Homo sapiens: one gene and its partner. The protein of the gene in region 1 interacts with the protein of each later gene in a biochemical or structural test. Each region holds a gene or a part of one and is shown on either strand. Other genes may lie near its edges.

The links. The genes of interacting proteins can lie anywhere in the genome.
Region 2: of the proteins of FGA (region 1) and FAM20C, one has a biochemical effect on the other in vitro, tested with the Homo sapiens proteins (2 studies listed by IntAct).

The regions. Positions count from the first base shown.
Region 1 is NC_000004.12:154,584,707-154,587,825, forward strand, and holds the end of FGA (fibrinogen alpha chain isoform alpha precursor), read right to left. Parts: intron 2,952-3,119; coding exon 2,806-2,951; intron 2,213-2,805; coding exon 788-2,212; 3' UTR 569-787; downstream 1-568. UniProt on the Homo sapiens protein: Cleaved by the protease thrombin to yield monomers which, together with fibrinogen beta (FGB) and fibrinogen gamma (FGG), polymerize to form an insoluble fibrin matrix. Fibrin has a major function in hemostasis as one of the primary components of blood clots.
Region 2 is NC_000007.14:251,503-255,253, reverse strand, and holds part of FAM20C (extracellular serine/threonine protein kinase FAM20C precursor), read right to left. Parts: intron 3,123-3,751; exon of another isoform or gene 2,611-3,122; intron 1-2,610. UniProt on the Homo sapiens protein: Golgi serine/threonine protein kinase that phosphorylates secretory pathway proteins within Ser-x-Glu/pSer motifs and plays a key role in biomineralization of bones and teeth.

The DNA.
Region 1 (3,119 bases):
AGCCATCCTCCCAAACTGGTCTCTTGATCGCAATAAACAGAAAAAATCTTACTGGATCCCGGTAGCTTGATATTGAAAATGCCACTTTGGGTACCTGAAGGATGTGTTTGGAGGACATCATCACAGTCTAAAAAAAAAATTAAGCTGGTTGGAAGAAGTTATTCTCATTTAACTTTACAAAGATAGGCACGGCTCAGATTAAATAAGGCAAATACTGTTTCTTTCCCTTCCTTTCTTTCTTCCTCCTTTCCTTCCCTCCATAGGGAAAGGATGCACTTACAGTGGGATAGAACTTATGCAAATAAGCGGTTATTTATACCTACAAATTGCAAAGGGGATTTTCCTCAAATGTATTTGGAATTTTACTTGCACAAACTAATAGCAAGTAACCAGTACAGGTAGCTAAGCATCACTTAATACTAACACAACTTGTATTTAGCCTGACCTAAATGTCAACTGAGACACATACTAAAAATGTGATTAATCAGTTGGGTGACAATTCTAATAGCACACACTTTGAATAGTGAAAGAATTTGACTAAATAAGCTCAAATAGAGTTTCAGAGGAATTCATTCATCCATTTAACATGTATTTATTGAGTCATGGCTCTGTACTGTTAGGCATTTGGGAATACAGAGATGAGACAGACAAAGGCCCTGCCCCCAAGGAACTTACAGTCTAGCACAAAAACAGACCAAAAAAGTGTAGTTTCAATGACGTGTAACAGAGAGTTAAGAAGGAAATGCAAGGGGCCATGGGAACACTGTGCAGAAATATTTAACTTAGTCTAGGGGGACAGGGAAGGCTTCCCCAAAGGAGAAGTGTGGATACCTCTGACAGGGCGAGATTTAGCATGGCCTCTCTTGGTGCTATGTGTTCCTTCATGATCGGCTTCACTTCCGGCCTCATCTGCCATTTTATAGCTCTTGCTTTCAAATGTGGAGTCTCCTCTGTTGTAACTCGTGCTACTAGTAAATTGTTTGCTGTAACTTGAAGATTTACCACGGGAAGGGAATTCAGCTATCCCAGGGTGATGAGAACTGGATTCCTTTGTATTTGTGAAGATGCCAGATTCTGAGCCCCTAGACTCAGTCTCACTGACAAACTCTCCTAACATAGGTGAGAAGAAACCTGGGAATGTTTTTCCAGTTGAGGCAGTGTCGAAGAAGGCAGCTTCATCAGGGTGCCTATGGCGGAACCCATCCAGAGTACCTATGCCAGACAATGTGCCTAAATCCATTGCCTCGGGACAGTCAGAACCATCTTCGGAGGTCACCACTTCTTTGGTAACTTCTTTGTGACCATCAGGACCAATAACAGTCTTAGTAACGGTTTTAGAGCATGAACGACGCGTGGTGGTTGTGCTACCAGAGGTGACCTTCTCTTTACCAGTCCTGAGCTCTTTATCTCCTTTAGAAGTGACCAGTTTTTCTGTGTGGTACTCTCTCCTTGTCCCTGGACTTACATTTCCTGACACCTCTTCAAATGTGCCCCAGTCTGGGTTGTTAGGCCTCGCGTTCCCAGAGCCTGGGCTATCTGGCCTAAAACTTCCAGATTCAGAGTGCCATTGTCCAGTACTACCAGATACAGAGCTCTCAGAGGTCCAGTGCCCAGCACTTCCGCGTTCAGAGCTGCCAGGATTCCAGGTTCCGGTACTACCAGGTCTAGGGCTCCCAGGGTTTTGGTTTCCAGTACTTCCAGTTCCAGAGCTCCCAGAGTTCCAGCTTCCAGTACTTCCAGGTCCAGAGCTCCCAGGTTTCCAGGTTGCAGTCCCTCCAGTCCCAGAGCTCCCAGGGTTTCGGTTTCCAGTACTTCCAGGTCCAGAGCTCCCAGAGTTCCAGCTTCCAGCACTGCTAGGGTTCCTGGGGCTTTCCGTCTCTGATCCGGTTCCATAAGAGGTGGAGCCTCCTCGAGTAATCTCATTTCCACCAGGTCTCTCTAACTCCATTCTCATCTGCGGCATGTCTGTTAATGCCTTCCACTCTGGGGGTACCTTCTGAAGCTGGCTCTTAAAATTTCCGGGAACCAAGTCTGGAACTGGTTTCATTTTTATCAGTGGTAAGTGTTGCCTATCTCTAGAGGGAAGTAAGTCTTTGGCAATGACCTGTTCAAGTTGCTTCTGCTGATCTTCATAGTCCTTCAGATCTACTTCACGAGCTAAAGCCCTACTGCATGACCCTCGACAAGATCGGATCTTAATATCAATGTCCACCTAGAGAGAGGGGAGAAAAATAAAGAGAAAATGTAGATACAAATACATAAACTACGTCTATTGAGTTCCTGGTAGTTAATTTTCCTTCTGGAAACTGGTTTCATTTTTTTTGACTCGGAGACCTACCACTTAATATTCTCTGTTTTCTGCCTATCGAGCACCCTCAGTGGAAGAGATGTTGGGTATTGCAGGGCTAGCCAGGATAAGCAATGGATGCTGTTTAATTCATCTTAGCCTCAGAATGGATCAAGAGTAAGGTGCTATTCCCTCTCAAAGGAAACGCTAATTAAATGATCCTTGGTGAAACTCAGGCTGAGGGCTCAGAGGTGTGGTGATGTAATGGGCTTTGGAATTAGACAGGGACTGAACATTTGCTTTTGAAATTTACTATCTATGTACCGTTGGAAAATTTACTTAATATCTCTGAATTTTTTTTCTTCAACTGTGGAGTGAGGAAAATAATACCTACTTTTAGGTAGATGATGGATATAACACTTTTCTCTGCATATAGTAGACACTCAGTGCATAACTATCGCCTTCCTTTTCCCTCTACTCAGAAACAAGGACATCTGGGACCACAGCCACATACTTACCTCCAGTCGTTTCATATCAACCAACTGAGCTCTAACATTTTTCTGCAGAAGCTGGATATGCTGTACTTTTTCTATGACTTTGCGCTTCAGGACTTCAATTCTGCTTCTCAGATCCTCTGACACTCGGTTGTAGGTATTATCACGGTCTGAAATCGAAAATATGGTTATTGAAGTAGCTGCTGAGTGATTTGTCTGTAATTGCCAGCAAAAAAGAAAGGAAGAAAGGAAGGAAGGAGAAAGAAAGAAAGAAAGAAAGAAAGAAAGAAAGAAAGAAAGAAAGAAAGAAAGAAAGAGAAAAAAGAAAGAAAGAAACT
Region 2 (3,751 bases), on another chromosome or scaffold:
GAGCAGCTGCCGGCTGGGACGGGGGAACCGCCACCTCTGTGCGCTGCTGGCGGGGGGTGCACACGGCACAGCCACGGCGGAAACGGTCTGCAGCCCCCAACTGATTAAACACAGTGTTTCCACGTGACCCAGGAACTCCCCTCCCATGTAAACCCCTAAGAGAAGAGAAAACATTTCTATACAAAAACTCAGACACGAATGCTCACAGCAGCACCGCTCACCACAGCCGAAAAAGAGAGAATCCACCCAAATGTCCATCAAGAGAGGAGTGGACACGCCAGGTGAACATGGTCCATCCGTGCGATGACACGAAACGAAATGAAACAAGAAGAGGAATGAAGCCCTCACTGAACCCGAGAACCCTGTGCTCCGCGAAGGAGGCCAGACAGAGGAGGCCACACGTCGTATGACCCTCTTAATATGAAACGCCCAGAACAGGCAAATCCAGATAGACTGGGGGTGGGACGCTGCTCGTCGAGGGCTGCGGGGTGAGGAACGGTGACCGCCTGCTCATGGTACGGGGCTCCTTTTTGGGGTCAGCAGGACATTCTGGATTTAGACAGTGGTGATGGTTGCACACCATTGTGGATATACTAAAAACCACGGAACTGTACGCTTTTAAATGGTAAATTTTGTGGTACATGAATTATACCTTAATAAAGAAAGAATAATCAGAAAAATGCAAGCGCTGTCCAGGCCCGCTAGCAGTGCGGGTTCACTGCTCTGATGCTGGAGGCCCGGCCGACGGCGCTATTCCTGTATTTATTTGCTGATTAAATCTAGTTTTTCTTGCTTTATTTGTTTGTGGAGAAACTCTGGAAAGCCTGGGGCTGTAGAACTGGTGAGAACGTGGTTTTGTTGGGGCCGGAGCCCCGAACCTCACTCACAGCTCCCCCAGTCCCAGCATTCCTATGCAGCCAGGCTGAGTGATTCCAGGGGTCTCTCCTGGCTGCAGGGCAGGCTCCCCGTGGGATCAGAAGGCAGGTTCGGCAGGGCGCTTCCCAGCGGAGTGAACAGGAGGGTGGCCGGTCCCGGCTGCCCTTTCTTAGCTGAACAAGCTGAGGTTCGGAGAGGAAACGGGGTGGGTGCCAGGCCGACCTGGCCCCCACCACACCCCACGCACCCGGCAGGTCCCGGCTGGTCTGGTTCCAACGCCCCGATCACCTGCCTGCCCCCTCCTTCCCGCGCCCCCTCACCCCACTGCCAACGCTGGGTCATTATTGTAAGAACGAACGATCAAGGAAAGACCAGCTGCAATCCTGTCTCGTGCTGATACAGATTAGTCGGCAGCCCACAGTCGGACGAGGCAGCCCCCACCGGGGCAGGAGCTCCATTTCAGGAGGAAAATCTTCATCTGAGCGCTCATTGGCTGGAGGCTTAAAATTCGTCTGCTGTTAACAGCCTCCCGTCCTCGCCTAAGCCGGTTTCAGATGGTATCGTGTTAAAAGAGAAAGGCATTTCTCGGGCCCACAGCCATTTCTCTTTGCAGATCCAAATCGGGTATTAAAGGGGCCTCCCGGGCGGGGTTAGGAGGGCTTGGAGCTGTGTGACCTCAGGCAAGTGCCTCCCTGCTCTGTGCCCAGCCCCTCGCCCGGGAAGCGGGGGTCCCAGCAACGCCGGCATCACGGGCTGGGAATTACACAAAGAAGCCACGGGAGGCAGCTGTCCAGGTAACGAAGGCTGCCCTGCACTTGGAGTGGGGGCTTTCTGGGAGGAAGGAGCGTGAGTCCTTTTCCATTTTAGTAATAATAAAAGACACAAACAGCAAGGAGAAAGCCAGGGTAGCGGACAAACCCAGGAGAGATCCTGCCTCCTCCAGTCACCAGGAAATGGCATCACGGTTGGCCTCCCGGAGAGCGCAGACAGGCAAGAGTGTGGCTCCTGGCAAGGACGAAGATGGCTCCTTCACCCTGCGGCTCAAGCGTCTCCCACCATTCCTTTCGCTGACTGTGTCGGGGCTGACCCAGCAGGAGGAGCGTTTTGCAAGGCGGACGTCTGCCATCTGCCACCTTGGACAGCTGTGCCCTGGACAGCTGCGGGCCCGGCGGACACTGTTACTTAGGGCAGCGGCTCTGGGTGCCCGAACTGGGTCCATCGCTGGAAACGTGTCTCCTGCAACCTGCATTTAAGCTGGACGCAGCACTGGAGAGAGTCCTGAGGACCGCCCTGCCCAGCCCAGGCCACCGTGGCAGGAAAAAAGGCGAAGCGGATGATGGCAAAGCCCTTCTGTCCAGGCTGTGTCGGGCTGAGTGGCTTCCGGAGCTGCTGAGGACCTGGGCCTGGTCCTGGGGGCGCTCACCTTGCAGAAATGCAAAGCTGTGCACGGATGACCTGTGCACCTCTGGGACGTTTGCAACGTGCAGACGGTAACTTACGTGAGAAGTAGGGGAGTGTGTTCTGTGAGCGTTTGGGGCTTAGAAGATGTGGGCTCTGACTGCGGCCCGGCCCCTACACAGCTGTGCGGTGCTGGGGTCCTAATTGCCCTCTCTGAACCTGAGCTCCACAATCCCTACGTGGGGCAGGGGGCTGCCTGGGGCTCAGCCTCCTGCTTCTCCCTCCCAGAGCCCACCTTCCCCGAGCACTGGCCTTGGCCACCTCTCGCCCCCTCACCTTGTTCCTGGCTGATGGGATTTTCCCTTTTCTGATTGACCCCACGGGAGGGTCACTCAGGCCACGGGAGGCCGAGGGGGTGTCTGCAGTGGGCTCAGCCCTCCAATGTGCTCTGGGCTCCAGCAGGGCTTCCGAGACCACCTGGCATCCGTGGTTGGGAGGCCGAGGGGGTGTCTGCAGTGGGCTCAGCCCTCCAATGTGCTCTGGGCTCCAGCAGGGCCTCCGAGATGACCTGGCATCCTTGGTCGGAAGGCCGAGGGGGTGTCTACAGTGGGCTCAGCCCTCTGATGTGCCCTCGGCTCTGGCAGGGCCTCCGAGATGACCTGGCATCCTTGGTCGGGAGGCCGAGGGGGTGTCTACAGTGGGCTCAGCCCTCTGATGTGCCCTCGGCTCCGGCAGGGCCTCCGAGATGACCTGGCATCCTTGGTCGGGAGGCCGAGGGGGTGTCTACAGTGGGCTCAGCCCTCTGATGTGCCCTTGGCTCCGGCAGGGCCTCTGAGGTCACCTGGCATCTGTGGTTGGGAGACACATGCAAAGCAAAGTGGAGCAAACGAATCTGAACAGATTTTGTTCTCTAGGAGAGGAATCCGGGCTCCTGGGCCCCTGCTGCTTGAGAGAAAGTCAAATGCTCACAGAGGCTTCTGGAAGAAATCGGACTGACAGGGCAGCGCGGCTGGAGTGGCAGCAGTGGGGTTCCAGGGGCTGCGTTCAGGGGCGCCTGACAATGCTGGGCCTGGCTGCTCTGGGAGATTCAAGGACTCGTCTGTCCAGGCAGGGACATGGAACTGTTGGGGCCTCTGGTGGCCGAGGAAGTCTTGGATTTCAGGGGAGAAACTTGCGCTGCCCTGGAAAACGCAACTAATATCCAGAACCAGGAGTGGCCAGGGAAGCTGCTGGAGCGCTTAATAAAGTGCTGGCTCCAGGGAGACGTGAGAAGGGATTCCAGCAACGGCACCAAAGGTGGTCGATGGCCGCCTTGCAGCACAGAGCTCAGGGGCACTCCGGTGACCACCGTCCCTGGCCTGCTGAGGACCTGGGGATTCCAAGTGTCAGCCAACATGGGACATAGAGGTGACTTAATTCACCTGCTTGGACTAATAATCAACTCAGTCTTTTTTTTTTTTGAGACGGGGTCTCACTC